Linked DNA regions of Homo sapiens: all the other regions are linked to region 2. The links come from fine-mapping of genetic effects on gene expression. A gene starts in region 2. Each other region holds a variant in brackets. All regions are shown on one strand. Distances are from middle to middle. Region 1 overlaps LOC101927040 (a long non-coding RNA gene). Region 2 holds the start of HEY1 (hes related family bHLH transcription factor with YRPW motif 1). Region 3 overlaps LOC101927040 (a long non-coding RNA gene). Region 4 has its middle 25 kb from the start of STMN2. Region 5 overlaps LOC101927040 (a long non-coding RNA gene).

The links. PIP is the estimated chance that this variant, and not a neighbour inherited with it, causes the effect. A credible set is the group of variants that fine-mapping cannot tell apart.
Region 1: its variant is the best candidate, but not a certain one, in a credible set for the expression of HEY1 in whole blood (GTEx, PIP 0.65).
Region 3: its variant is the best candidate, but not a certain one, in a credible set for the expression of HEY1 in whole blood (INTERVAL, PIP 0.66).
Region 4: its variant is the best candidate, but not a certain one, in a credible set for the expression of HEY1 in whole blood (INTERVAL, PIP 0.66).
Region 5: its variant is the best candidate, but not a certain one, in a credible set for the expression of HEY1 in whole blood (TOPMed, PIP 0.86).

Annotation. Positions count from the first base shown.
Region 1 is chr8:79,825,700-79,831,897 of GRCh38, reverse strand. All of the region lies in intron 2 of LOC101927040 (a long non-coding RNA gene), which reads left to right. Among named protein-coding and RNA genes, the nearest start is that of LINC01607, 61 kb to the right of the region's middle. The variant G/A (reference allele first, on the strand shown) is at 4,129.
Region 2 is chr8:79,765,014-79,771,211 of GRCh38, reverse strand. HEY1 (hes related family bHLH transcription factor with YRPW motif 1) reads left to right here and starts at 3,445. Exons shown (of 5, transcript NM_012258.4): 1 at 3,445-3,637; 2 at 3,918-3,993; 3 at 4,120-4,203; 4 at 4,480-4,561; 5 at 5,441-6,198. The coding sequence starts at 3,549. The coding sequence ends at 6,024. It overlaps LINC01607 (long intergenic non-protein coding RNA 1607), which reads right to left and starts at 3,070. Exons shown (of 4, transcript NR_125410.1): 1 at 2,994-3,070. LOC101927040 (a long non-coding RNA gene) reads left to right here. Exons shown (of 6, transcript NR_110954.1): 6 at 207-1,840. RefSeq lists silencers at 2,273-2,442, 2,543-2,902, 2,943-3,422 and enhancers at 3,873-3,922, 5,509-5,748.
Region 3 is chr8:79,818,568-79,824,765 of GRCh38, reverse strand. LOC101927040 (a long non-coding RNA gene) reads left to right here. Exons shown (of 6, transcript NR_110954.1): 3 at 4,251-4,297. Among named protein-coding and RNA genes, the nearest start is that of LINC01607, 54 kb to the right of the region's middle. The variant G/T (reference allele first, on the strand shown) is at 2,383.
Region 4 is chr8:79,582,706-79,588,903 of GRCh38, reverse strand. No RefSeq gene overlaps it. Among named protein-coding and RNA genes, the nearest start is that of STMN2, 25 kb to the left of the region's middle. The variant T/A (reference allele first, on the strand shown) is at 2,886.
Region 5 is chr8:79,836,076-79,842,273 of GRCh38, reverse strand. The region is part of intron 2 of LOC101927040 (a long non-coding RNA gene); the gene reads left to right. Among named protein-coding and RNA genes, the nearest start is that of LINC01607, 71 kb to the right of the region's middle. The variant C/T (reference allele first, on the strand shown) is at 3,378.

The DNA.
Region 1 (6,198 bases), 61 kb before region 2:
CTCAGAAAATGCTCCCTGTGAAGCCAAAATGTGAGTGAGTTAGACTGGGCCATTTCCAGCACGCCCCTCGTCACCCCGTGCCTGTGCAGTGTCACCTACTTCTGATAACAGCCTTGGACTGAGGGCGCAGGAGAGAGTGGTTTTATGCCACAGATACTTCATTCGTCAATGCTGTCTTCCAAATCTTTCTCCTCATGTCCATTATCACAGGCCTAGAACAATTGTTTTTATTAGACAGTTTAATACATTGCCTCTTAGACCAGCAGGCGAACCCGAGCATCTTTCTGACTCCTGTGCTGTCATTAACATGCTTCTTAATTCAGAACAGCTGTTCCTCCTCCCACTCCTCCTCTCTCCCAATCTTTGCTCCTTAGACAAACTTTGCTTATTCAGAAACTTTGGGAAAAAAGATTTTTGAGTAAATGAGAGTTCTGGAAACATAAGGATTTGTCTCTTTCAGCATGGACTTTTTAATTTTAAACATTTTTGATGAAAATCTTTCCAAAATACATTGTTTAGTACCTTCTTAAACAGAGAAAATGGATGAAATTTAATTTTTTTCTTGATGCCTTGGGATCATGACAGTGAACAAGATTTTGTTACTCTGCTGCAATGCAATAGGGCACATAAAGGGTCCCAAATTTTCAGATTCTGAAGTTATTTTGAAAACTTTTAAATATACTCTCGTCTCCCTGCTTTTCATCAGTCCATTGACCAATCACTCTGGTTATCAATGCACCTATTTCCAGAAATTCTTCTACCCTAATTTTCTGATGTTCAGTGTTTACTGTGAGCATAGAAGACCAATATAGACACACACTTACACGTGTGTGCATGCAGATGTGCATTAGAACTGTGTGTAGAGAGGTTTGAGGAGGTACCTGAGAGTTTCCTATGAGTAAATGGAATATGTTATGAGTTCTCTGTTTTGGTTTTCCAGAGACTGCTTTTGTTAAATTTTTTGCTCATTTTAGGAATAGAAAGTTGCAAGACAAATGAGTTTAATAATGATGAAAAGCTCCCAGATTTCTAGGAGCTATCTATCTTTCTAGAAAGTTCTTCCTCGGTTCATTTTTTTTTTTTTTTTCACTTAATGCAAGTATAGGCAATGGTTACTAAAAGGAGATTCCTTTTATGAGAGGCTTGTCATTTCATTATCCCAACTTCACATACAAATGATTTCATTATCTTTAAAAATGTTGTCGTGATATTCTCAAACTATTGTCATTTAAAAAAAAAACCCACCAGGTGCAAAAACAAACTGCAACCACAACAGCTAAATCTGTCTCTTTCTCTCATTGTCCTCTTTGGCAAAGATCTGTGGAAAGCTGAATAAATGAACAGGGCCATTTGACAGAGTGTAACCCACACCAGACCTGTTGTGCAATGCCTTGAACGTAAGTCCTTTTCAACTAAACGGAGGTATATTTTCTTTTATATTGTTGACTTTGACCCTGAAGCTTAGCAAAGAACACTTGTGCAACATTTTCTGGATCAATTTATCATCTGCTCAGAGCAGACATGCATTTTTTCTCATCATTAAAGGGAAACCAAACCCATCAACATAATCCCCGATTCTGCTTTGTTTCTTCCCAGTCCTTCACATTGTAGATTCTGAAATATTAATGAAGAGATGTGAAAGTAATGTGCTCTATTCTCACACCCAGCCCCAGTGGGAGGAAGGATATGGCCAGGGAGTAGGAGAATGAGAAATGTCCTCGTTTTGCAAAACAACGTTGCTCAAAGTCAGGTTGTTGGATTCTATCTCTGAATATCCCAAGGTGGTGATCTAAAATCCAGATTTCTGGGCTAATCTATACCTATGGAATCAATATTTCTGGAGGATGAGGCTTTGTCATTTACATTTTAAATGGATGCATTTAAAACTGATTGGACTAGATGGTGTCCGAGCTTTTTCCTTACTTAACAAATCCTATGCTGCTGGCTCTTATGTGAATACTGATAATAAACTGCTTACAGGCTGGGCATCATGGATCATGCCTGTAATCCCAGCTATTTGGGAGGCCAAGGCAGGAGGATCGCTTGAGCTCAGGAGGTTGAGACCAGCTTGGGCAACATAGTGAGAACCTGTTTCTATGTAAAAAAATTAAATTTAAAAATGTACTTACAGAATACTCATAATGAACTTTATTATTGTAAGAATAATAACTTTTGACTGTATAGCAGCATTTTTAACTTTTCAAAGTGTTTTCCTATTTTCCTATATATAACCCCCCAGAGGGGGGCAGGGGAGGTCTCATTACCTCCATTTTAGAGATGTAATAAAGTCCCCGAAGCTTAATGACTTGTGCCAACTACATCATAACTTAGTGGTCAGGAGTCAGGACTGGCACACAGGTCTTCTGACCTCATTTCACTGTACATTTGGTGTTCTAAGATCCAAGACACAAGAGGATGCTTTATTAAAGTGTCCTTTAAAAACGGACTTGAGCCGAAATCAGCGCCTTCCAAGCTTCTCCACATGCTGTTGAGTGTGCTGTGCATTTGCTCCTGAGAGACGAAAGCACAGATAAAGATGCCCTGCACACTGGGAGAGAAATGGGAATCTTCAAAACAAAGGAATCTCATTCCTCTTCTGTTCATCCCCTTCAATTTTCTGATCCTTTCCCTCCACTCCCTCTTTCTTGTAAAGACTTAAACTCTGAAATAATTATATGAAATTAAGTCGGTAAAAGCCAGGCTCGTTTCCTTAAGATTGATGTGTTAACATTTGGGGCAGTTTTCTCAGGACTCAGGGAGACGATTATTTCTGAGGTTGGCTGCGGGAAGCTTCCTCTTCTCTAGGGAGGGGTGAGGTTCCCTCCCAGGACACCTCCCTCCGTGACACAGCCTAACTGTTAGCAGAAGTTCATAAAAAAAGTTGGTTGATTTTTTTAAGTGCTGGAGACTTTTCTCCTTTTAATTCCGGTCATAACTACCCACTGTCCAAAAAAAGGAGACACAGCAGGCTCTAAACTCTCTCTGAGACTGAATGCAAATTGAGTGTCTGGGAGTCTGAGGGAGGTGCGGGAAACACTTTCCAGCTCCACTGTCCTGTTTTTATCTGTAGATCAAGATAAGCGAGCGGGTGGATTGTTAGCAAAAAGGAATCTCTTCATGCAAATTATAATTCTCTTAAAAAAAAATAAGCATGAAGGTGTGACCCTGCCTGTCACTTATCAATCTGTGCAGTAAAACTAATGGAAGGTTGGAAGACTGGGATCCTTTGCATTGGAAAATGGCTTGAGTGCCCGTGCTGAAGCCACGCTGAATTTCCCGTGTTCCTGCAGCAGCCTGGGAGGAGACCGGCAGGGTCACATTCTGGTGGTGCCTGCCTGCCCTGACACATCATTTCTAATTATGATGCCTTTGTAAACCCCTTCCCTTTTGCTTCATAGGGCTTGTAAAAGGTACCCGCAAACCTCTGCCTTCCTGTGCCTCTCTGCCCCGAGGTAGAAATCCTCCTCTTGCAGGAAGTGCAAAGCAAAGTTCAAAGCTTTCTTAGTCAAAAGAAAGTGCGCCTGATCCAGGATAACATGATTAGGCAACAATTAGACCAGAAAAAAAAAAAAAAAAAAAAAAGCCAGGGCCCTGCATCACTGGCCAGTGCTGGCCTTCTGCAATCTCTGCTCTTCTAAAAGATACTTATTATTTCCTTGTTCAGTATGAAGATGCAAACCCAAATTGAATACCATTTAGGGTCAAAGCCACAAGCAGCTTTGGGCTGTCAAGGGATGGAGAGCTCTGATGAGTCTGTGATGGAATGTCCCCACCAAACACAGAGGCTAAGGGATGGAGCTTAAGAGAGGGATGACAAAGAAAGGAAGCAAGGGTCCACAGACCCAGGGCAGGCCCTGTCGCTCTGGTGACTTTCTGAATGACTGCCAGACTTGTTTCCCCCCTATAAGACAAGCCCAGTTCAACCCACGTTAAAAGGGGGTTAAAAGAGGTCATAAATCTTTCTGGGCACTGAAGATCCATGGAAAACGTGGCCTGATGTCTCTGACATCTGTTTTGGGTTCTCAGCCTCAGCTGGCCCCACTGCCCTTTCTCCTGCGATGACTCACAGGCCCCATTCAGGCCACCGAGTGGCAGGTATAGAGTGTCTCACCTCGGAGTACTGGGGAT[G/A]AGGGGTGAGCGTCCGGGCAGCAGGCGAGCCCCCAAGGCTGGCCCGCTGACACCGTAAGTCTATACCCAGGGGCTGGTGGAGGGGAGGCTGTGGGATTGATGGTGTAAATGGGCAGCACACACAGCCTGCAGAGGGGAGGCCGGCGGTGGGTGGGAGAGCGCTGGCTGAGGTTGGTCACACGGAGATTGAATTTCAGCTGAATTAGATCAGAGCTGTGGGAAACAGCACCTCCTTCACACACACAGCCGGTCTCATAGGAAGATGTGGGAGGGCGGCTGGGGAGACAGAGGCAGGCAGCTGCGATGAAATACCGAAGTCCGCTCACAGCAGCTAACAGCTAACTTAATTACTCTACTACCTCTCCCCAGCGCACTGGCCAGAATTCGCAGACCCTAGGGTTTTAGACTGAAACGCTCCATGGTGCCAGGGAAAGATGGGGTGGTCAGCATTTAAAACACACCATGGTTTGGGAGTGAGGCTGCGTGTCTCTCTAAAGGAGGAAAAGCGTGATTATGAAAGTACAGGAAAGGCAGGGAACTTTTAGATCCACAGCTGCAGAAGGCAAACTCCGGAAAGGACTTACGTGGCTTTCACTGCTACCTTTAGGGTTTGATGTTTTATAGCATTTTATTAACATGCAACGCAAGCTCTCAATACCGTAACTGTGTTCGCTGCTGCTGCTAGGAACTGTTCCTCTAATCCCCTTTCTCTGCTTAATAACCTGACGCCATTTCAGTGACCCAGAATACCAGCTTTTCTTGGGAGGCCTTGGAGGAGTGGAAAATTGGGAGAAAGTTTTAGAATTAAAATGGGAACACTTGCAGTCCTATTAAAAAGGGCAAGAAGTCAGCTGCTTTGAAATCCACCCCCTCAGCAGGGGTGGGGAAAGCCTTTCCAGGAGACAGTGGGAACACATTTGTTCCCTAAGCTGGCACCAGAGTGGCTTTCTCCAGGGCAGCCAGGGCCTGGCATTCTGTATACGCCATTTGAATCAGGGAGCCTTCAAATGATCCTTTTTTCTCTTCCTGTCACTCAACAACAGGCTGGCGGCAAAAATTTCTACGGCAGTTTCTCTTGAACCAGGCAGAAAACAACCCCTGAGGCTGCTCGGTGCTCCCTAGTCTCCTGGTTTGCATTGCACATCCATTTTGAGCCTGCTGCTACTGATGAGAAAATGACCTCAAACAACTGCCCACTAAAGGTCCCATGTTGTGACGATGCCGGGGGCTTTCTGCATAGCGCTCCGCTTCTCAGACTGAGCAGCTTCTGGAGTTTTGTACAATGCCTGGGCCTGAGGAAACCTGCCAGGATATTCCTGGTAGGATGAATGATCACCCCCCCGTAACAGACAGAGACACCCAGAGCAGAGACAGAGTTCACACTGTGGGATCTGACTCAATGTTTGAATTCTTAGGAGCTCACCACTTCATTGGATTTCTCATGACTGAAAAAAAGAGACCACTAGAATCTGGATGAGATGAGAATTTAGGTGCTGTTTTAGATTCCCCTAGATTAGGTGGATACCCAAAAGAGTGTGTGGAAAAACTGCAGGGAGGGCCGGGCGCGGTGGCTCATCCCTGTAATCCCAGCACTTCAGGAGGACGAGGCAGGCGGATCATCTGAGGTCAGGAGTTCGAGACCAGCCTGACCAACATGGAGAAACCCTATCTCTACTAAAAATACAAAAGTACCCGGGCATGGTGGCACATGCCTGTAATCCCAGCTACTCTGGAAGGCTGAGGCAGGAGAATCGCTTGAACCCAGGAGGTGGAGGTTGCAGTGAGCCAAGATCGCACCACTGCACTCCAGCCTGGGCAACAAGAGTGAAACTTGGTCTCAAAAAAAAAAAAAAAAAAAAAAACCTGCAGGGAGTCTGAGTCCTCTGAAATGGGATGAAAAATTTATATGTAAAAATTGTGTATATTTCCTCCAGCCCCAGGAAGAGAGCCCTGTGTATTCTGTTGGACAGATCTGCTGATTTTCAAGTTTCCAAGACTCCTCCAGACTTAAGAAGTACTGTTTTATATTAAATATTTTGCAAAGGTAATTTTAAGAGGGAGCATTGGTTT
Region 2 (6,198 bases):
GAAGAGGTCTCCGCCCCTTCCTTCCCGGTTATTACTGAACCACCTAGTTCACCTCTTCTTGATCTTAAGTCCCTTCCAAACTCAGAACAGGCCTTCCCAGACCTCATAAAGAATCCTCACCCCCTCGTTTTTCCTTACCAACAAGTGCTTCCAAGCACTGGAGCATCCATAACTACTTTACTGTGTATTCTCTGTCTTCTCCCTAGGATGTGAGTTCTAGGAGTGCAAGATGGATGACTTTTGGGTCACCTTTGTGTTTTCAGGCCCTAGCACAGCACATGGCACATAGAAGAATACGTATTTATTGGAAGCATTGAAAAATCAGTCAAACTTAAGAAGCAAGACAACCTCATTTGTAATTTTTTTAGAGACAGAGTCTCATTCTGTTACCCAGGCTGGAGTGCTGTGCAATGATCATAGCTCATTGTAGCGTTGACCTCCTGGGCTCAAGCCTCGGCCCCCAGAGTAGCTAGGACACAGGCCACCATGCCCGGTTCATTTTTAAATTTTTTCTAGAGATGGGGATCTTGCCGTGTTGCCCAGTCTGGTCTGGCACTCCTGGCCTCACGCAAACCTCCCACCTCAGCTTTCTACGAAGCTAGGACTACAGGTGCATGCCATGCCTGGCTAATTTTTAATTTTCTTTTTTAAGAAATGGGGATCTTGCTATGTTGCCCAGGCTGATCTGGAGCTCCTGGACTCAAGCAATCCTCCTGCCTCAGCCTCTCAAAGTGTTAGGATTACAGGTGTGAGCCACTGCGCCTGGCCGTAGAGAACCTCCTTTTTGACATAAAAGTAATCATGAACATGTGAGCAATATTTCATTTGGATGCCAATGTAGAGTTAAGCATCCCTAACCCCACCCGGTCTCGTCTCACTCAACATCTGCAGCTTGTCCACGCCTCTCCACAGCAGCAGAAATGAGCCAAAGCAGGAAAGGCTGACTCATTGTAGGTGCCAGAGGCTGGGAAAATCTATAGAGCCAGAGGGGAAGTAGACACGTTGGTTCTGGGGAAGGGTGGCCTGTCACTTTGGGGAAAGAAATGGAAGGTCAGAGGGACTTCTGGAAGGCAGAGGGGAGCAGGTGGGATGGTTTCCTATGCCTGGACCATCAGTTTCTGGGAGGGAAGAGGCAGGAAGTAGTGATGGATGCCCTGGACTGAAGACTGGGAGGGCCAGGAAGGAGCCTTAAAATTTGCACTTCCAGAGAGAAAGTCGGCTGGTGGGATTGACCTCGGACTGACAACTAACAGGCAGCATGCGGTGGAGTTTCAGGAAGCCAGAGGTCTGGGGTGCCAGCAGCAACAAACCCAGGCTGGCTGATGGAAGGGCCCAGCCTAGACAGGGAAGCAGAGGGGCTGCATGGAAAGGCTCAGGGCTGGAGGTGATGTGAAGTGGAATAAGCTTCAGTGGGAGCCAGGAGGTTGTATTTCCCGTTGGGGGCGGTGGTGGAGGGATGGGGGTGCCCAGAGAGGAACTATGGATTAGGCCCAGGCCGGCCACTCAGAGTGCTTGGCATCCAGGATGTGTTAAGATGGCATTGAGGCCGAGCGCGGTGGCTTAGGCCTGTAATCCCAGTACTTTGGGAGGCCAAGGCAGGCGGATCACCTTTGGTCAGGAGTTTGAGACAAGCCTGGCCAACATGGTGAAACCTCGTTTCTACTAAAAATACCAAAAACAATTAGCTGAGCATGGTGGCGCGCGTCTGTAATCCCAGCTTCTGGGGAGGCCGAGGCAGGAGAATTGCTTCAACCCGGGAGGCGGAGGTTGCAGTGAGCCGAGATCGCGCCACTGCACTCCAGCCTGGGCGACAGAGTGAGACACCATCTCAAAAAAAAAATAGCATTGAGATCAATAAGGAAGTCTAGAAACCAGGAAGCTTTTTGCAAAGAGAAAACGCCTTTTGTTATTCTCACCGATGGATATTAAGCTTTCCCTCACAGACAGGACTACAAGCTTCAGAGTGGATCTGAGATGAATGCGAATTGCTGTGTACCTTTGTAAGGGACAGAAGACCGGATTTTCAAATTTAAAACAACCATTCTGTTTCTGGAATCAGAAATCAGTTTCGAGATTTACAACTGTATTTTTTAAAAAATCTGTCTTCTTAGTGGACTCGGGGGGGACTTCACGTGGCACCCAGTACACGCCACGCCAAGCCACCGAAGCCAGAGGTGTGTGTCTGGGGCCAGAGACGTGCATTCCCTCAGCAAGGCCGGCCTCAGACGCAAACGCCAGCACCGCCACCCTGTCGCCCGCTGAGAGGATCTGGCCGCCGGGGGGAGGGGGCGGGGGGGGGGGCAGCGGGGGAACAACAAAAAAATCCCAGCATAATGATTATTCCCAGGGACCGTTGGGTTTTTTTTTCCCCAAGGCGGCCGAAAAAACAAGTGCTCCCCTTCCCCGGAAATGAGATGCACAGGGGTATTCATTCCATTCCGCGGCTGGGAAGCCCCTGCGGAAACGAGTCTGGCTGCATGTGCGGCCTCGGTCCCAGAAATCAAAAAGAGCGTCCCCTGAGCCCACAGCTTGCTCCTCCATGTGACCGGCCCCTGGGCTGGTGGCCACTGTGGACGCGCCCGGCGCCCCCTCTCCCGGCTCCCTGCGGGTTCCGCGGAGCCGCCGGCGCGCAGCCCGGCCAGGTGCACCCGGCACGGCCCCACTAACAGCGCGCGCCTCCAGCCGCCGGGCACTGGCGGCCACGCGGGCGAGATTTACGGTGGCGCTAGGCGGCGGCTTCCGAGGCCGGCCGGCGCCCAGGCTCCGATTACAGGTTCACACTGGGGGCCCGGCCGGCGGCCGCCCAGCCCCCGCCGGCGCGCCCTCGCGCGGCCCGGCTCCCCGCCTGCCCATTCTTCTCCATTCATGCGGACGCCCAGCGCCGCCGCCGCCGCCGCCAGCGCGGCCGCCGCCGTCGCCGTCGCCGGCCGCCCGGATTGGCTGGCGGCCGCGGCGCCGGCACTTTCCCACGGCCCGCGGCGCGTGCGGCTCACCGGAGGCGCTGCAGGCTCGGCCCTGGCGCGCGGCCAGGCCAATCGGGGCGCGCGGGGCGGGGAGGAGCCGCGGCCGCCGGCGGGCTTGTGTCCCGGCCCGGCCTCCCGCGCCTCCCCGCCGCCCGCGCCTCCTCCTTCCCCTGAGTGCAGGCTGGACAGAGCCCCCGCGGAGCCGACGCACCGCCGCCGGGCAGGGGCGGGCGCGGAGGGCGGGGGCGCGGTCCGCTAGAGCCCTCGGCCTCGCTCCCGCCCCTCCCCGGAGCGGCTGCCAATCAGCGGCGCGAGAAACCGGATTGGCCGGGGGGCGGCTGTTGCCCTGGAGTTGCCGCCCCGCCTCTCCGCCCCCTCGCCCGCCTTCCCCACTCCCCCGCCCTCCCCAGGGCCCTGGGAAGGGGCTCAGCGTGGGAAAGGATGGTTGAGTTTTAACCAGAGGCAAAGCGTGAGCGGGATCAGTGTGTGCGGAACGCAAGCAGCCGAGAGCGGAGAGGCGCCGCTGTAGTTAACTCCTCCCTGCCCGCCGCGCCGACCCTCCCCAGGAACCCCCAGGGAGCCAGCATGAAGCGAGCTCACCCCGAGTACAGCTCCTCGGACAGCGAGCTGGACGAGACCATCGAGGTGGAGAAGGAGAGTGCGGACGAGAATGGGTGAGCTGGCGGCGGCGGAGCGGAGCCGAGCCAGAGCGGGAGGCGAGCGCAGGCCTGCCGCGGTGACAGCGGGCTAGGACCCTTGGCGCGCCGGTGCCCTGCGCTGACCTCCGCGCGTCGCAGGCTGGCGGCAGCCTGCGGCCAGGGAACCCCTAGGTGCCTTCCAGCCCAAGTGGCAAAAAAAGTCTGAGTGCGGGGAGGGTGTGGGGGCGACCTCTCAGATCACCTCTCCTCGTTTAACGGCGATTTCAGTTTTTGTTTGTTCTTTTTCTCTTTTCAGAAACTTGAGTTCGGCTCTAGGTTCCATGTCCCCAACTACATCTTCCCAGATTTTGGCCAGAAAAAGACGGAGAGGAGTGAGTCTCTTTACACTCTCCTTTTATTTTTGTTATTGATTAACGGAAATAACCACCTTTTTTTTTGTCTTTGAAATTTACAGTCGTAATGGTAATGCCTTCCTTTGTTTTGCTTGCCTTCTGCAGATAATTGAGAAGCGCCGACGAGACCGGATCAATAACAGTTTGTCTGAGCTGAGAAGGCTGGTACCCAGTGCTTTTGAGAAGCAGGTAATGGAGCAAGTAGGTAAAGCTCTCAGCATAGCTATCTGCACCTTCTGAATCTTCCCCTCATTAATCTCATCCGCCTTGGAAAATAGCTGTGTTGCTTGTGCCTAGATGAATTCGTACACAGATACCAGCGTATTTTGTGAAGACAACTGATTTTGCTTTAGTCCATGCTTTACGATTTACAAAGCATGTATCTTTGTATATATGTTTGCATATTTTAAATTGTTCCCCAAAGGAACTTGTGCCAAATCAATCTTTTGCCATTCTCATCTTTAGGGATCTGCTAAGCTAGAAAAAGCCGAGATCCTGCAGATGACCGTGGATCACCTGAAAATGCTGCATACGGCAGGAGGGAAAGGTACATCTCCTAGACCTAGTGGGGGCTCTGAATGGTTGGCAAAGAGTGAGCAGCGGCTGAAGGCCAGGATTGGTGCAGTAGCTGCCTGATTTTTCTTTGGGGGTGGGGAGAGAACGGTGTGTGGTGTGTGCAGTTCCCTGTCAGTACATTTTCGAATGCACATAGAATCTTCTCCAGTGAATTCACCACCCCAGCTCTCTGCGGATTGAGCTAGTGCATCTTTTGGAAAAATACCTATTATTTGTGAGGTCTTCAAAAGTTGTGACAGCCCTGATTCAGATCAGGTAGCTTTCACATTTGTCCATTGCTATTTTGAGAAAAAGCATTTAAAAACAATATGTGGTCTTATTTTTGGTATACGGGATTTTAAAAAAAAGGTGCTGCCACATGCCTCTTGAGGAAAGAAATGTATTCTGGTTAAGTAAAGGAAACCTAACGGGAGACCAAGGTCTGTGTGTATGTCTCTCCAGCAGGAAAATGCTTTACTGAGGTCCAAGTGCCTAAAAGCTCCGCGATGATAACTTACATCTGTGTGTCTAATGAATTTCACTGCTCTGTGGTTTCTCTGCCCTTGATGTATTTTTTGTTGTTGTTGAGGGAAAACATTAAAGGAATGAACATAGTTTCATCTGCTGGTAGGGTATAATTCCAATTTCTGCTCTGCAGCTTCTAATTGGGCTTTGAACTTGCATTAGCAAACACATTCTGCTTATGTTGATTAATGCAAAGATTTTTGTTGATTCCAAAGACTTTCGGAAGAACCCCTGACTGTTGTGTTTTAAGGGATGCAGGTATCTGCCAGGAAGGGCTGTCTCTGGGACTTAAGAAATGAGGGAAACGGGCAAAGCCCTGAGATTTTTCTTTTGTTCTTTTGCTTAGGTTACTTTGACGCGCACGCCCTTGCTATGGACTATCGGAGTTTGGGATTTCGGGAATGCCTGGCAGAAGTTGCGCGTTATCTGAGCATCATTGAAGGACTAGATGCCTCTGACCCGCTTCGAGTTCGACTGGTTTCGCATCTCAACAACTACGCTTCCCAGCGGGAAGCCGCGAGCGGCGCCCACGCGGGCCTCGGACACATTCCCTGGGGGACCGTCTTCGGACATCACCCGCACATCGCGCACCCGCTGTTGCTGCCCCAGAACGGCCACGGGAACGCGGGCACCACGGCCTCACCCACGGAACCGCACCACCAGGGCAGGCTGGGCTCGGCACATCCGGAGGCGCCTGCTTTGCGAGCGCCCCCTAGCGGCAGCCTCGGACCGGTGCTCCCTGTGGTCACCTCCGCCTCCAAACTGTCGCCGCCTCTGCTCTCCTCAGTGGCCTCCCTGTCGGCCTTCCCCTTCTCTTTCGGCTCCTTCCACTTACTGTCTCCCAATGCACTGAGCCCTTCAGCACCCACGCAGGCTGCAAACCTTGGCAAGCCCTATAGACCTTGGGGGACGGAGATCGGAGCTTTTTAAAGAACTGATGTAGAATGAGGGAGGGGAAAGTTTAAAATCCCAGCTGGGCTGGACTGTTGCCAACATCACCTTAAAGTCGTCAGTAAAAGTAAAAAGGAAAAAGGTACACTTTCAGATAATTTTTTTTTTAAAGACTAAAGGTTTGTTGGTTTACTTTTATCTTTTTTAATGTTT
Region 3 (6,198 bases), 54 kb before region 2:
CCAAGATTACGCCATTGCATTCTAGCCTGGGCAACAAGAGCGGAAACTCCATCTCAAAAAAAGAAAAGAAAAGAAAATCCAGTGTTGATGAGTTGATTTCCCAAAGCAGATGAACTGGGAAGTTGGGTGTGGTGATTATTTACATTAAATAGTAGCTACTGGTGGTCGGCGTGGTGGCTTACACCTGTAATCCCAGCACTTTGGGAGGCCAAGGTGGGCAGATCACGAGGTCAGGAGATCAAGACCATCCTGGCTAACACGGTGAAACCCCGACGCTACTAAAAATACAAAAAAAATTAGCCGGGCGTGGTGGCGGGCGCCTGTAGTCCCAGCTACTCGGGAGGCTGAGGCAGGATAATGGCGTGAATCCGGGAGGCGGAGCTTGCAGTGAGCTGAGATTGCGTCACTGCACTCCAGCCTGGGTGACAGATCGAGACACTATCACACACACACACACAAAAAAAAAAAAAAAAAAATTAAATAAATAGTAGCTACTGGCTGGGCACGGTGGCTCACACCTGTAATCCCAGCACCATGGGAGATGGAGGTGGCTGATTGCTTGAGGCCAGGAGTTCAAGACCAGCCTGGGCAACATGGTAAAACCCTGTCTCTACAAAAAACAAAACAAAACAAAAATTAGCCAGGCATGGTGGTGTGCACCTATAGTCCCAGCTACTCAGGAGGCTAAGATGGGAGGATCACTTGAGCCTAAGGAGGCTGAAGCTGCAGTGAGCTCTGATCGTGCCACTGCACTCTAGTCTAGATGACAGAGTGAGACCTTGTCTCAAAAAAAAAAAGGAAAAGAAAAGAAAAAAAGTAGCGTAGCTACCACTGATGCAGGACCCACATGAGCAGAGATTTATATACTTTATCTCGAGCAATTCTTCTGACAACACAGTGAAATGGGTACTATTTCCCCCATTTTTCAGATGAGGAACTTAAGGTTTAGAGAGCTTAAGCTCCTTCCTGAGGATTACTTTTCTACCAAGTGCCAGAGAGAACCAGCACTGAAAGCCAGATCAGTCTACCTCCAAAGACTATGCTCTTAAATTCTCCATTAGTCAGCTCCTCAGTGCAGTGGGATTTGATGCTTTACCAGAAATATCAAGACCCTAAATGCATCTTAAACACAATTTGATTTTCAAAGGTAGAAAAAAAAAGGAATGAAGTTTGACCAAGTGCCTATTGTATCCAGATAGTATGTCAGGGGATATGACTATGTCATTTGGTAAAAAATTAAATTTTATAAAATATTCAATTCTTGTGGAATATTTTCAAAATACACTTGTCAGTTAAAGTTAGGTACACACATGCAAATCATCCCCCTCAAGTAGTCTCACAAACTAGCCAAAACTTTCCCAGGGCAGAGGGCAGATTTTGCTCCCTATTTTATCCCCTTTGTGCATGGAATATTTGTCTTAGGCTGATAAATAATTAATAAATTAGTGCATAAAAATATGAACCTATTTTGAGGACAGCTATCAGAAAGCCTTATTTCTTAAAATGGAAGTGGCTCACCCTGGCAACCAGACATGGAGATATGGGGATTGCTCAATATACACCCAAAGTAGGTCTTATGCAGAAGACTAAGAAAGATGAGAGCGAAAATAAGACAAGGATATGGAGATATTGTTTTTGAAACTTGAAAAACTATAGTTTGTTTTTCTAATGTTTAATTGTTCCTATTCAGATTGGGGAAATTAAAAGCTCTTACTAGTTCAAAGTTTTACCCGATGAACATTACACCTACCCCTTTCAGAGATCTCAATGAATGAGTCTGTCTGTGATTTTTTTCAGCACTGTGATCCAAAAGATATCCAAACATAACATCCCCCTCCTACCCCAGCCCCCTCAGTGCATGTGTGTTTGGTAAACGTTAATGTGCCTGGGGTCTTTGGTATTGGGAAGTTAACATTCATTTTTTTGGCTGGAAATGCAAATAGTTCATCAAAATGTAATGCTTTTGGTGAACCAGAGATTGAAAGAATGAACCAATTCTGAGGACAGTAATCATGGACTTGATTTGCAGCTTAAGAAAGGTCATTTCTGCTGAGTAGTATCCTGAAGCAAATACTACCAAGGGACGCTATGGACTTTCTAGACTCGATATTCTTAAAACTATGGATAAACATACCTCTTGAGAAATGCAGGTATTCACATGCTTAAAGAGAGGTTTGGTACGTATGCTATCTTTTTTTTTTTTTTTCTTGAGACAGGGTCTTACTTTATTGCCTAGACTGGAGTGTAGTGGCACAGTCATAGCTCACTGCAGCCTCAGCCTCCCTAAGTGTTGAGATTACAGATGTAAGCCACTGTGCCTGGCCTGCCGATACTATCTTAAGGGTGCTTGCAGGCCTCTGGTGTGGTCAGATCTCATGGGTT[G/T]TAAAGTCATAAATAAGTTAACTGCTCCATGTTTCTAGCTGAATCTCTGTCTGCCCTTATGTCTTTAGGCCAATAGCAGAGAGCGGTAGCCTTGGGAAGAGGAAATAATCACTGGGCTCAGAGTTCTTCACTGCCTGCTCCACACATTACAATTCAGTATCCCAATTAGATTGTTCCAGGGACACTCCCTCCCTTCTTTCCTTCCTTCCACTGACTCATTCATCCATTCATTCAACAAACATTGATGGAGCCCCTCCTATGGCCTTATAGCAGCCCCCATCCGGTGAGAGGAAACACACAAGTAAGCCCTTAGAGTCCAGTGTGCAATCGAGGGTTAGAGCTGTGCACAGCTTTTGGAAGAGCAGAGTGGAGGGACACCTGGCTGTTGGCAGTCAGGGACAAGGAGATTTTCCTAGAGGAAGGGAGCTTGAGCTGAGCCTTTAAACTCTTTTTTTTTTTTTTTTTTTTGAGACAGATTCTCACTCTGTTGCCCAGACTGGGGTATAGTGGTGCCATCTCGGCTCACCCCAACCTCTGCCTCCTCAGCCTCCTGAATAATTGGGATTACAGTCATGCGCCACTACCGCCCAGCTAATTTTTGTATTTTTGGTAGAGACAGGGTTCACCATGTTGGCCAGCCTGGTCTTGAACTCCTGACCTCAAATGATCCACCCACCTCGGCTTCCTAAAGTGTTGGGATTACAGGCGTTAGCCACTGCACCCAGCCTGAGCTGAGCCTTTAAGAATACAAGAAAAGTTTGCTAGGAAGAAAAGAAATGGTAAAGCTGTCCAGGCTCTCACACCATGTGTGAAAGCATGGGTGTCGGGGTAGAGAGGAGAAGTAGGCAGGGGAAATTGTGGCAGAGGCCAAGAAGGGAAGTAACCCTGCTTGGACTCCAGGCTGTGTGCAGAGCTATGATGGGAGATAAGGTCAGATAAGAATAACAATTGCTAACATTTATTGAACACCTGCTATTTTCCAGGCACTGTTCTAATGGATTTATGTGTTTTCACTTAGTTAATCATGGCAACAGCCTTATGAGGTGTATATAAATATTACTACTGTTTTTCAGATTCACAGGGAGATCAAGTATTTTGCCCAAGAGCACACAGCTAGAGAGTGGAGAAGTCCGGATTCAACCCAGACAGATTGACTCCAGAGCGTGTGCTATTCGTGGCTATGCCAGAATGCCCTGATGGCCTCAGGTTTGCCTTGCCAACTGACAAAGGCGACTGTTTCCTACCCATTGGCTCAGGTTAGAGGTTACCATGACTGTGGAGACAGTTTTCTCGTGCCATTCTCTCCTTCCTTAGACCACAGGGAATGAAGCTGCACACACTGTTTAATACAGAAAGCCAACATAGAGGGTAGGAACCGTATTGGTTTTATTCATCAATGTAAATTCAGTACCAAGCCCAGTGCCTGGTACACAGTAAGCACTCACTGAATATTTATGGAAGAAACAACAAATGAATTCACTGATTTTTATCTATTAATTATATGGAAGTGAATTCAGACTTCTTCAGGGTTATGCTTAGCTTTACTTTTGAGATGTAAACTAAGAAAAACGAGATTCCACTAAAACCTTGTCACATATATATATTTGGAAATCTGTGAAATGGTCAACCCCAAACCAAAATTTACATAAGATTAACTTATTACTTTCAAATTTACAACCGATGGATTGTGGTGTGTGTGTGTGTGTATGCGTGTGTTCCATTTGTAGCATGTGTAGTTGCTTTATCTAATATGTACATTCTCTAATTCACAGATGGTTCCAGCTTCCTACCCTTCCAGTTAAAATAAACAAAAACGAGGGTCTTGAGTGTCTATGATTTTCATAAGATCTATGGCGTTTCTTCTGCAGATGATCAACAGTTGCCTGCCTTGGACTTTGGAGTTCCCAAGAACTAGGTAGGTAATGGAATTAGGTCACACTGACATCCAGTGATGGAATTTGCCCAGTGACATTAATGCATCGATTGCTTCCTATATATTTCAGTGTCATAAACAAAGTTTCTCTTTCCTTTTCAAGAAGAAAAGAGCATGGTGGAAACAGAGAAGTGTGTCTTTTGTTTGGTCAGCAAGGCAGGAAAGGCCTTGTGTGCTCTGTCCGTCAACACTGATAAGCTGTGACATCGGGAGGCTGGGAGGATCCCCAGCTGTTCCACCTACACTGGGTCCCAGGGCGCGTGATCCTGCTCAGGAAGCAAGGGGAGCTCAAACAGGGAAAGATGAGCACCATGAACACAAATAGTCTACTCGGAGTTTCTTAAATTATTTGAGTATCCATATATTTGACTTCAAGAGACCTTTATTTTCTGGGGTTCTTCCTTGTAGCTCAAAGAGTATGTGTTTTGAACATTTCATGTGGTGCAGCCCCTCTACAAAAGCCTTCCTCCAAAAGAGTCAAAATCTTAAGGAATCTAGCAAAACTAGAACAAGATGCATCATAATTGGTTTCTATAAATTAAGAAACAATTGATTTTTAATTTCTTAAGTATATTTGTGGTTAAGTATAATGGTATTTGATTTCTTAAGTATATTTGTGGTTAAGTATAATAGTATTTGGTGCATTTTATTCCATTGTGAAGAGTGTTAATGATTATAACTAACAAGTTTTATGTGCTTTACAATTTCAAATGCCTCCTACAAAGTTTATATTTGTTCATTTGGTTCTCTTTAGCCCTCTCTGAAATGAAGAAAACTATTACTATCCTACTTTTACAGATGAGGAGACTGGAGTTCAGGGAACATACTAGGCTAAGGGTTTTGCCTTAGAGGCAGCCTGTGAAAAGTAAAGGAGCAAGAAGTTGAACCTAGTTCAAGTTCCAAAACCCATTCTCCTCTTATCCACTCAATGGATAAATCAAGAAAAGTGAGAAACTTATTCTTGAATGTCCAACACAGGCTAGGTAATTTTACACATACGATTTCATTTAGAAACTACAAGTCAGGTACTATTATCAGGGATAGAGAAATTAAGATTCCAAGAGGACCAATAACTTAACAAATGCTTGGTAAATGATTGAGCCCTTTTAGTGAAAAATAACAGGTAATTCTAGGAAAAAAGATGTTCTTGAACTAGATCAGCTTACTGAAATTTGTTAGGAGTGCAACCCTAGGCAGAATATCTCACAAAAGGAAGCTTATGTGTAAAAAGTGGAGTTCGGTTGGGTTTTTTTTTTTTTTTTTTCTATTCTGAGGAATATTTTCTTTTCCTTTTCAGAAAATCCAGGTCAGGAACTGTATCTTTGCTCAGCCACCTGCAAACAGACTTGAGAACAATGTAAACCACCCTCTGCAGGATATTGATTCTGATGGAGTAAATGTTGATTAAGCAGAATGGTGTTTTTTTTTTTAACTGGAGGAATTCCAGATCTTTCCTTAGGCCTGTCTCTCCAGGGAAATGAGCTCTAGCCTTAAAAATCTACAGAAAACCTGAGTAAGAATGAAGATTTATGATGGGAGACGCTGGGCGGAAGACGGCTGGCTATCTGGTGGGCTATCTAGAAGCTCATCTTTGTGTTATTAGAGAAACACTCCCGCTCTTGACAGGATATGGTCTGCTTATCACATAATCTTCTCAAGTTTCATTCCCATTCTGCTTACAAATGCCCCAAATATAAAGAGATGCATTTCATCAAGACAGCCTTTTAAGAGGCAGTTGATCCCAGCTGTTGCCGTCTATCTTAAACACCTACCTTTTCACCCTAGTGTGGAGTTTACATGTCGATAAGCGATGTAAAAAAGGGAACTTGAGAAATCTCAGCAGAGGAAAAACACCGAGCCTGTCTCTGGGGATTGGAGTAGGA
Region 4 (6,198 bases), 180 kb after region 2:
TGATTTTGTATATTAAAACTTTACAAAATTAGTTTATTAGTTCCAATAATTTTTCAGTGAAGTCTTTAGGATTTTCTATATATAAAATAATGTCATTTCCAAACAGAGACAATTTTATTTATTTCCTTTCAATTTGGATGCATTTTATCTTTTTCTTGCTTCCTTATTCTGGCTAAGACTTCCACTACTATGTTAAATAGAAGTGGTGAGAGTGAGTATTCTTGTCTTGTTCCTGATATTAGAGGAAAACCTTCCCACTTTGTGCCACTGATTCTGATGATAGCTATGAGCTTGTCATATGTAGCTTTAATATATGCAGGAACACTCCTTCTATATCTAATTTGTTGACAGTTTGCATCATGAAAGGCTGTTGAGTTTTGTCAAATGCTTTTCCTGCGTCTGTTGAGATAATCATATGATTTTTGTCCTTCATCCTATTAATATAGTGTATCACATATATTGATTTGCATGCATTGTACCATGTACCATCCTTGCATCCCAGAAATAAGTCCCACTTGGTCAGAGTGTATAATCCTTTTATGGGCTGTTGAATTTGGTTTGCTAGTATTTTGTTGAGTATGTTTGCATTTATGCTTATCATCAGGAATATTGGTCTGTAATTTTCTTTTCTGTCTTTCTCTGGCTTTGGTATTAGGATAATGCTGGTCTGGTGATATGATTAATTCAACTTTTTGATTATATACTTTTATTGCTTTTCTCTTACATGGATATTTTATTGCTTAATAATATTAAGTTTTACTTGTAATATTAATTTATGTAATGATATTAAAATATTAATTTTAATACAATATTAAATTTAGGTGAAATCAAATATTAAATTATTAATGGAATGATTAAATTTTAGGTGAAATCAAATTTTACTTAACATTAAATTTAATTATATATTTGCATTATTCTAATATGTATAGAATATCAAAATAAAATTAACAATGTTATGATTAATGATTAGGCTGCTGTTAAGATTTCTTGCAAACTCTATGAAATATATTATATTCCACTAAATATAAAAAATAGAAATACTATGTAAAGAATTTTTTTGTGCCATGCTGGTGCACTGCACCCACTAACTCGTCATCTATCATTAGGTATATCTCCCAGTGCTATCCCTCCCCCCTCCCCCCACCCCACCACAGTCCCCAGAGTGTGATATTCCCCTTCCTGTGTCCATGTGATCTCATTGTTCAATTCCCACCTATGAGTGAGAATGGCACATGTATACATATGTAACTAACCTGCACAATGTGCACATGTACCCTAAAACTTAAAGTATAATAAAAAAAAGAATTTTTTTGTGTTTATATCTCTAATTTGATAAACAATTAGCTTGTTTTTGCTTTGTTTTCATATTTTAGGGCTTTTGGTTCAATTGCAATTCCTTGTATTCTCTTTCTTTTCTCTTTTTATAGCTACTCATTTTTTATAACCAGTTGTTGGTTAGTAAAAAAATTCCCTTTACAAATGTAATTTGCTAAATAAATGCAAATTCTTTTTCTTATATAAAGATAGCACATTATATAAGCTATTCTGCATTTTTTCATTTAATAGTATATCCTAGAGAATATTTCATATCAGTGTATAGCATTCTTCTTTATTCCTTTTTATGGCTATATAGTATTAGTTTACCATAATTTATTTAGCCAGTCTCTATTAATGGACATTTGAATTATTTCCAGTTAAGTATTAAAATTATTCTATGGTGAATAATCTTGTGCATAAAACACTTCATAGTTTTACTTTTTTTTGGGCAGATTCCTAGAAATGAAATTGCTGAGTCAAAAAGAGAATGTATAAGTAATTTTTCTAGATATTGTCAAATCCCCCTCTATTTATATTACACTTTTGCATTTCCAACTCATGTGGTTGCTCCATGACAATTAAATAATATATTGTCTAATTTTTGGATTTTTGCAATTCTTATAGGTGCGAAGTGATCTCTTAATTAAATTTTAATTTGTGAGTTAGGTTGATTATCTTCTCATGTGTTCCATTTCTTCTGTGTTCTGTTTGTCCACATCTTTTACCCATGTTTCTATGTACCATAGAAATATCCCTTTGTCTGTGACATAAATTGCATGTATTTTTTCTTAGTTTGTCCTTTGTCTTTGTTTATAATCTTTTTTTATACCAATTTTTAATTTCTTATTTAGTGTAGTCAGACTTTACTTCTTTTATTGCTTCTAAATTTTGAACTAGGAATATATTTCCAACTCTCAGGTTATAAAAAAAATTTATTCTCATTTATTTTTCTATTGTATGGTTTTAAAAATTTTTACATTTTTGATCTTTGATCTATTTGTTTTCAGTTTGAAATGAAGATTTAGTTTTATCTTTTTTTTCTCAAGCATCATTTTAAAGCATCCATTTTTTACTCACTGATTTTTGTTTTGTTTTGTTTTGAGATGGGGTTTCACTGAGTTGCCCAGGCTGGCCTTAAATTCTTGGGCTGAAGGAATCCTCCTACCTCAGCCTCCTGAGTAGCTGGGACTACAGGTGCATGCCACTGTGCCTACGTTTCCCTCACTGATTTAGAATGCCACTTCTGTCCTAGAAAATGATGTACTTTTCAAGTTCAAAAGTTCATACAAACATTTCGGTTATCAGAGCTAGATGTTGTTTTTAATATTTGACAGACACGAACTGCCTTCGTTTTAAATAGTGTCAACCCAAACTCATCCTTGAATTTTCTATAAATATTTCATGGTAGCTCTTATTTAAATGCAAATATATTAAAAACAGAAGTAAAATTTCCAGATATTATCATATGTCATGCTACAAACATGTATAAGACACAGACTCTGTAATTAGGATCTTATAGCTTAATGAGAGAAAGAGATATACAATGAGATTATTTCAATGTATTTTTC[T/A]ATATACAGGTTATTATTGGTTTATGCACAGAATCTGCAAAGATACATATATGGATATGGATTCTGCAAAAACAAGATGGAAGAAACTATGCAGGTAAAACAAAATGATTGTGCTTCTTTTATGTCTACACTTTGATATTATTAGCGTTGTCCTAATTCTTATTTTCAAGATAGACCTAAAAGACTAGCAAATCAAGCTGAGTAGATTAAGCACAACATACAAATATGGAGGGGTAAAATTACTTGTGCAGAAGGCAGGGCACAAGGATAATAAATTCTTAAAATTCTGGTGAAGAAGGAATTCTGCCCTTCACATTTAAGGCCAGGGTACTGTGTGAAATTAGAGAAACTTTGAATTCTCTTTATATTTAGTGCCTAAAAGTTCAACCACTTAGGAAGAGGTTTCCTCCCTTTGGTGAATCACCACCTCCAGCATTGACAATGCCAGATTAGATGGAACACTTTCAACCCTGGGGTTAGGTATTCTTGCTTCTGCCTAAGGTTTTTGATTTTAATTGACTCCACTGCTCCCTCTCTCAGGGTTTAAAAAGACTCTTATTACTGGGAAAAGAGTCGTTTTAATTTTCCACTAAGAAGGTTAATTAAACATCAGTTTTGGTTCTTTCCTGCTTGGTGTTTGAGTGACAAGAACTTTTCCTCAGATGTCAAAAGCTGAAGAAATGATCTAGAGGACGGATTCCTGGGACAAAGACATACGAACTTGTGTCCTCAACACAGAAGCTTTTCAGGGAGAGTGGCAGACAAACGTATTTCTCCTTCAGAACTATCTCAATCCTAGGCTAGTGGTGTATGTTGCAATGCTACCCTGGGGAGAGAGGTGTTAGAAAGCTGTGTTAAAAAGATGTCTTAGCTAACAGCCTTATGTGATAAATAGCATGCCATTTTTCAATCAATGTCATTTCTAAATCCTGTAAGGAGATCATTTGTCGGAGTGGTTATTTGACAATTCATATATCATTTTGATCCATTTCTGACCCCTAGGTTTGGTCAAATGGACTTAAAGATTTAATTAAGAAAAAAATACGACTTTTAGCTGTTTTTTTGGAGTTTGAATGGAGTGTTCATATGAATTCTCAGGTCTGTATGTGTATTAGTCTGTTCTCACACTGCTATGAAGAAATGCCAGAGACTAGGTAATTATAAAGGAAAGAGGTTTAATTGACTCACATTTTCACATTGCTAGGGAAGCCTCAGGAAACTTACAATCAGGTGGAAGGGGAAGGAGAAGAAGGCACCTTTTTTTCACAGGGCAGCAGGATGAAGTGAGTGCAAGCAGGGGAAATGCCAGATGCTTATAAAACCATTAGATCTCATAAGACTCACTTATTATCACAAGAACAGCATAGAGGAAACTGCACCCATGATTCAATTACCTCCACCTGCTCCCTGCCCTTGATATGTGGGGATTATTACAATTCAAGGTGAGATTTGGGTGGGAACACAGAACCAAATCATATCACTCCACTTTTGGTCCCTCCCAAATCTCATGTCCTCACATTTCAAAACACAATCATGCCCTTCCAACAGTCCCCCAAAGTCTTAACATTCCAGTATTAGCCCCAACCTCAAAGTCCGAAGTCTTATCTGAGACAAGTCCCTTCTGCCTTTTAGCCTGTAAAATCAAAAGCAAGTTAGTTACTTCCTAGATACGATGGAAGTACAGGCATTGGGTAAATACACCCATTCCAAATCGGATAAATTGGACAAAATGAAGGGGCTACAGGTCCCATCAAGTCTGGAATCCAATAGGGCCCTCATTAAACCTTAAAATTCCTAAATGATCTCCTTTGATTCCATGTCTCACATTCAGGACTCCCACAACCTTGGACAGCTCCACCCCTGTGGCTTTGCAGGGTCCAGGACCCCTCCCAGCTGCTTCCATGGGCTGGCATTGAGTGTCTGCAGCTTTTTCAGGTTCACGATGCAAGCCGTAAGTGGACCTACCATTCTGGGATCTGGATGATGGTGGCCATATTCTCACAGCTCCACTAGACAATGCCCCAATGGGGAATCTGTGTGGGGACTCCAACCCCACATTTTCCTTCTGCACTGCCCTAGCAGAGGTTCTCTATGAGGGCTTCATCCCGGCAGCAAACTTTTGCCTGGACATCCAGGCTCAACACCACATGTAAGCTCCCAAGGCTTGGGGCCTGCACCCCCTGAAGTGATGGCTCCAGTTGTACATTGGCCCCATTTAGCCAGAGCTGGAGCTGAAGCAGCTAGGATGCAGGGCACCATGTTCCAAGGCTGCACAGAGCAGGTGGGAACTGGGCCTGGCCTAGGAAACCATTTTTTCTTCCTAGGCCTCCTTCCATTTTTCTAGCCTTCCCTCCAGGCCTCCAGGCTGCTGTGATGTTCTCTGACATGCCCTGGAGACATTTTCTCCATTGTCCTGTTGATTAACATTTGGTTTCTCATTACTTATGCAAATTTCTGCAGTGGGCTTGAATTTCTACCCAAAAAATGGATTTTTCTTTTCTATTGTATTGTCAGGTTGCAAAATTTTTCAAACTTTTCTGTTCTGTTCTTCTTCTTGAATGCTTTGCTGCTTAGAAATTTCTTCTGCCAGATACCCTAAATCATCTCTCTCAAGTTCAAAGTTCCACAGATTGCTAAGGCAGGGGCAAAATGCTGCCAGTCTCTTTGCTAAAGCATAGCAAGAGTCACTTTTACTCCAGTTCCCAAGAAGTTCATCATCTCCATCTGAGACTACCTCAGCCTGGACTTCATTGCCCATATAACTATCAGTGTCTTGGTCAAAACCATTCAACAAGTTTCCAGGAAGTTCCAACTTTCCCATATTTTCTTGTCTTCTTCTGAGCCCTCCAAACTTTTCCAACCTCTGTCTGTTACCCAGTTCCAAAGTTGCTTCTGCATTTTTGGGTATCCTTATAGGAGCGTCCCACTCCTGGTACCAATATACTGTATTAGTCTGTTTTCACACTGCTATGAAGAAATATCTGAGACTGGGTAATTTATAAAGGAAAAAGGTTTAATTGACTCACAGTTCTGCATTGCTGGGGAGGCCTCAGGAAAATCATGGCAGAAGGCAAAAGAGAAGGAGGCACCGTCTTCACAGTACAGCAGAATGGAGTGAGTACAAGCAGGAAAAATGCCAGTTGCTTATAAAACCATCATATCTTGTGAGAACTCACTCACTTATTATGAGAGCAGCATGGGGGAAACTGCCCTCATGATCCAATTACCTCCACCTGGTCCTGCCCTTGATACATGGGGATTATTACAATTCAAGGTGGGATTTGGGTGGGGATACAGAGCCAAACCATATCAG
Region 5 (6,198 bases), 71 kb before region 2:
GTCAGACCAAAGGCCCTGGTGGAATGGGCTCATGAGGGGATCTCCTGTCCTGAGGGTTGCAAAGATCCATGGAAGAAGCATGGTTTACCAGGGTTGCACATCCCCTTACCACTTCCCTAGGCAATGGGAGGTTCCCTTGGCTCTGTGTCACTCCCAGATGAGCTATTGCCCTGCCCTGCTTTTCTCAGTTCTACATGGGTTGAGCTGTTTCCCTGATTAATCCCAATCCAAGTACCTGGATATTTCCATTGAAGGTGCCGTATTTACTCACCCCTTTCGTTCCTCTCCATGAAAGCCTCTCCATGAGAGCCTCTCTGTAGCTGGTTCTAGCCAGCCATCTTGGCCCTGAGTGTCTACCTTTTGTCTTGCTTAATCCTCACACAATCCTCTGAGATAAATATTTACTATTACTAACTCCATTTTACAAACAAGGAAATGGAGACTCAGAGAGGTCAAATTACTTGCTTAAAATCACACAGTCATTGCTGTAACCAAATGTGAACCTAGGTCTGTCTGACTCTCAAGGCCTATTGATTCTGAGTCATCTTCCTCTATACAGCTGGAAGCAAGAAACCAGGACCATCCCTACAAGTTTGTCTTAGTGCATTTGAGCTACTATAAGAAATTACCATACCCTGCGTGGCTTATAAATGACAGAAATTTATTTCTCACAGTTCTATAGGTTAGAAAATTCAAGATCAAGGTGCTGGCAGATTCAGTGTCTGGTGAGAGCCCTCTTTCTGGTTCATAGATGGCATCTTCTCACTGTGTCCTCACATGGCAAAAGAATGAGGGAGTTCCCTGGAGTCTTTTATAAGGGCACTAATTCTATTTGTGAGGGCTCCACCCTCATGAACTCATCATCTCCCCAAAATCCCAGCTCCAAATATCATCACATTGGTGATTAGGTTTCAACACTTGAATTTTGGTCTATAGCAATGTTTATGTCCCAAATCCTCTTAACTGTCATTTTTTCCCCCAGTCTCTTCCTTCTAGAACGCCTCTGTTTTGAAGCTTGATCTTATCTAGAAATTAATATTGAATTGCTTAACTAAAATTTATTCATGTCAGGTAGGTTTTTAACATAGTGTTTTACAAGCTGAAGGTCACAACCGATTAATGGGTCATGAAATTAATTTAAAGTATGACACCGGCATTTAAAAAAGAATAGAACAGAAAATATTTCTATTCCTATGCCTATTTATATGCATATCCATTGCATGTAGGAAAGGGTTAGTACTGTTATACACGTGTGTATTTGTGCACTGGGTCATGACATAGAATGTTATTCCTATTCTGGGTTATGGTCAGAAAAAGATTCCTTACTCATTACCAAATTGTCTTTCATAAATAGCCCAAGCCATTTTTCGGAATATATATTTTTAAAAATGTATTTTAAACAAAATATACAATGCCCGTGGGATGAAAATCCCTCATAGGCTGACTCCTGCTACCTTGTATAGTCTTATTCCAAGCCATTTTTGTCCATAAATACTTTCTATTTTAGCTCTACCAAATTAATTTTACAAAAAACTTTATTGAGTAATAATTTGTATCCAATAAAATGCACTTATTCCAGGTGCTTAGTGTGATATGTTTTGTATACATCAGTTTAACTACCATCATAATTAATACACACAACACTTTCATCACCCTAAAAGACTCCTGTGTGCCCCTACCTGCCAACCCCAGCCCCAAGCAACCCTTGAACTGCTTTCTATAACAATGAAGTAGTTTTGCCTTTTCTAGAATTTTATACATATAATATATATAATGTTTTTGTGTGAATTTGTTCACTTAATATGATGCTTTTGAGATGACAATGTTCTGACATGTATCTGTAGATATTCTTCTCATTGATGAATAGCAGTCTATTGCATGAATGTAGCACAACTTGCTTATTATTCTGAAGGTAGATGTTTGGCTTGTCTCCAGTTTTTAGCTATTATTAACAAATGAACATTTGGGTAAAATAATTTGTGTAACATATATTTCACTGTGGGTGGAAAATATCCAGGCGTATAATTGCTGGGTTGTATGGTAGCTGTATGTTTAACTGTGTAAGAAATTGCCAACCTGTTTTTCAAAGTGGTTATGCTATTTTACATTCCCAGTAGTGATGCATGACTGTTCTAGTTGCTCTATATCCTCACCAACACTTGGTTATATAAAACTTTAAAATTTTTAGCGATTCTAATAGGTGTGTGGTGGTTTCTCATTGTGGTTTTAATTTCCATTGTCTGATGACTAAGAATATTGAGCATCTTTTTATATACTCATTGGCCATTTGTTTATTTTCTTTTGTGAAGTTTCTGTACAAATCTTTTGCCCATTTTTTGCCTGTTTATTATTAAGTTGTGTTTATATGTTCTGAATAGCAGTCCTTTGTTAGATACATGCATTGCAAATATTTCCTTCTGGTCTTTGGCCTGTCAATTCATTTTCTTGTTGGTGTCTTTTGAAGAGCAAACATTTTGAATCTTAGTGAAGAAAATTGTATCATTTTTTATGGTGCTTTTTGTGTCCTCAGAAATCTTTGCCTATCCCAAGGTTATGAAGGTTTTCTCCTAGACATTTTATAGTTTTAGACTTTATATTTTGATCTATGATTATGATTGATTTCTAGTTAATTTTTTGTGTATGGCAGGAATTTTGGATTGAGGTTCATTCTTTCTCATATGTATATACAGTTGTTTTTGCACCATTTGTTGAAAAGTCTACTTTTATTCCCATTGAATTATTCTTATACTTTGTCAATAATTAATTACCCATACATGTGTAAGTCTGTTTCTGGGTTTTCTTTCTTTTCCAAGCATCTATATATCTGTTCTTACACCAGCACCATACTGTCTTGATTACTGTAGATTTATGATAAGTCTTGAAATCAAGTAGTATAAGTCCGCTAACTTTGCTCTTCTTTTTAAATATTGTTTTGGCCATCCTAGGACCTTTCCATTTCCATATAAATTTAGAATCTATTTGTCAGTTTTTACCAAAAACCTGCCAATATTTTACCTGGAGTAACTGATCTGAACCTGTAGATCATTAGGGGAGAATTGATGCTTTAATAATACTGATCATTCAGTTAATAAACAGGGGATATACCTTGATTAATTTAGCTCTTTACTTTCTCTTTTTTTTTTTTTTTTTTGAGATGGAATCTCACTCTGTCACCCAGGCTGGAGTGCAGTGGCACAATCTCAGCTCACTGCAACCTCCGCCTCCCAGGTTCAAGCGATTCTCCTGCCTCAGCCCCACGAGTAGCTGGGAGTACAGGCATGTGCCACCATACCTGGCTAAATTTTGTATTTTTAGTAGAGATGGGGTTTCATCATGTTGGTCAGGCTGGTCTCGAACTCCCAACTTCAAGTGGTCTG[C/T]CTGCCTCAGCCTCCCAAAGTGCTGGACTTACAGGCGTGAGCCATGGTGTACCAGGCCTTTACTTTCTCTTGGGCATGTTTTATAGTTTTCGGAATACAGATATTGCACTTATTATATTTATCCCTAAATATTTCATTTTTACACAATTATAAATGGTAAGAAAACATTTTCACTTTGTGATTTTTTAATAGACATTATGTTTTAGCACAGTTTTACATTGACAGCAAAATTAAGCAGAACGTACAGAGATTTCTTATACATCCCCTGCTCCCACATACACACGGCCACACTACTTTCAAATTCCCACACCAGAATGGTAATGATAAAATCAATGAGCCTACAGTGACACATTACCACCACACAAAATCCATAGTTTATTAGGATTCACTCTTGGTGTTGTACATTCTGTGGGTTTTGACACATGTATAATGATATGTATTCACCACTATGGAATTATACAAAACAGTTTCACTGCCCTAAAGATCCTCTGTGTCCTGCCCATTCATCCTTCCCTCCTCCCTAATTCCTGGCAACCACTGATTGTTTTACTGTCTCCATAGTTTTGCTTTTTCCAGAATATCTTATAGTCAGAATCATACAACTTGTAGCATTTTTGACTGGCTTTCACTTGGTAACATGCATTTAAGTTTCCTCCATATCTTTTCATGGTTTAATAGCTCATTTCTTTTTAGTATTTCATAATACTTCATGGTCAGAATATACCACAGTCCACCCACTTACCTACTGAAGAACATCTTGGTTACTTTCAAGTTTGGGCAATTATAAATAAATCTGTTATAAACATTCATATGTAAGTTTTGGCTTAGACATAGGTTTTCAACTCATTTGGAAGCACAATTGCCAAAATCATATGGTAAGATTTTGTAAGTTTTGTAAGAAACTGCCAAACTATCTTTTAAATTAGCTGTACCATTTTGTATTCCTACCAACAGTGAATGAGAGTTCCTGTTGCTCCACGTCCTCACCAGCATTTGATGTCGTCAATGTTTTGGATTTTGGCCATTCTAATAAGTGTGTGATGGTATCCTGTTGTTTTAATTTGTAATTTCCTAATGATATAGGATGTTGTGCATTTTTTTCATATGCTTATTTGCCACCTGTTTATATCTTCTTTGGTGAGGTGTCCAGGTATTTTGTCTATTTTAAATCAGGTTTTTAAAATCATTGAATTTTAAGAGTTCTTTGTATGTTTTAGATAACAGTGTTTTATTAGTGTTTCATAAATATTTTCTCCTAGTCTGTGGCTTGTCTTCTCATTTTCTTGACAGTACCTTTCAGAGAAGAGGCTTTTAATTTTAATGAAGTCCAGCTTTATCTATCTATCTATCTATCTATCTATCTATCTATCTATCTATCTATCAATCATCTAGTCATCCAGATGGGGTCTCATTATGTTTTCTGGGCTGGTCTCAAATTCTCAAATGATCCTCCTGCCTTGGACTCCTAGTGTTGGGACTACAGGCATAAGCCCCTGTGTCCAGCCTTATCAATTTATTATTTCAAGGATTATGCCAATTTTTTTTGCTAGTGTATAAAAATATGCAATTGATTTTAATATATTATCTTACTATACTCAGTTATCAGCTCTTTTATTATTTATTTTATAACATTTTTGTAGAGTCCTTGGGAATCTAGACAACACAATCATGTCATGTGCAAATAACAAGTTTTACTTCTTCCTTTACAGTCTGCATGGCTCTCATTTTTTTTGCTTTTGTCTTATTGCATTGGCTAAAACCTACAGTACAATATTGACTAGAAGTGGTGAAAAAAGACATCCTTCCATTGTTCTAAACCTTAGGAGAAACACATTCAGTCTTTCGCCATTAAATATATCGTTAGCTCTAGATTTTTTTGTAGACATCTTTCATCAGGTTGAGGAATGTCCTTTCTATTCTTAGTTTCTTGCGATTTTCTTTTTTTAATCAGGAATAAGTGTGGAATTTTGTCAAGGGATGATTGTCATTTTTCTTTTTTGATTTGTTAATATAGTAAATTATATTGACTGATTTTCAAATGTCAAAACAACCTTGCATTCCTAAGAAAAATCCCACTTGGTCATGATGCATTATCCTCTTTATACATTGCTGGATTCCATTTGCTAATATTTTGTTACAGGTATTTGTGTCTATGCTCATGAGAATATTAATCTGTAACACTTTGTGTGTGTGATATCTGTCTTATTTCAGTGTCAGGGTAATTCTGGACTCATAAAATAGTTGTAAATGTTATCTCCTTTTTTATTTTCTAAAAAGTTCATTGTTTGTATACAACGGTTATAATTTCTTTCTTAGATATTTGGTAGAATTACTAATGGAGCCATCTCGACCTGGGGTTTTACTTTGGGGAAAATTTGTAAATATTAATTCCATTTCTTTAATAGATATAGAATGTTTTACATTAACTATTTCTTCTTCAGTGAGCTGTGATAGTTTGTGTCTTTCAAGGACTTTGTCTATTTCACTGAAGCTGTGAAATTTATAGGCATAATATTGTTCATAATATTCCATGATTATCTTTTAATGTCTGTAGAGTCTGCTCATACTTTCATTCTTGACATTGGTAATTTTTGTCATCTCTTTTCCCTGTTTAGTTTCATGAAAGGTTCTTCAATTTAATTGATCATTTCAAAGAACTAGCTTTTCATTTATTTTTATTTATTCATTTATTTTTTTTTGAGATGAAGTCTTGCTCTGTCACCCAGGCTGGAGTGCAGTGGTGCCATCTTGGCTCACTGCAACCTCCGCATCCTGGGTTCAAGCAATTCTCATGCCTCAACCTCCTGAGTAGCCGGGATTA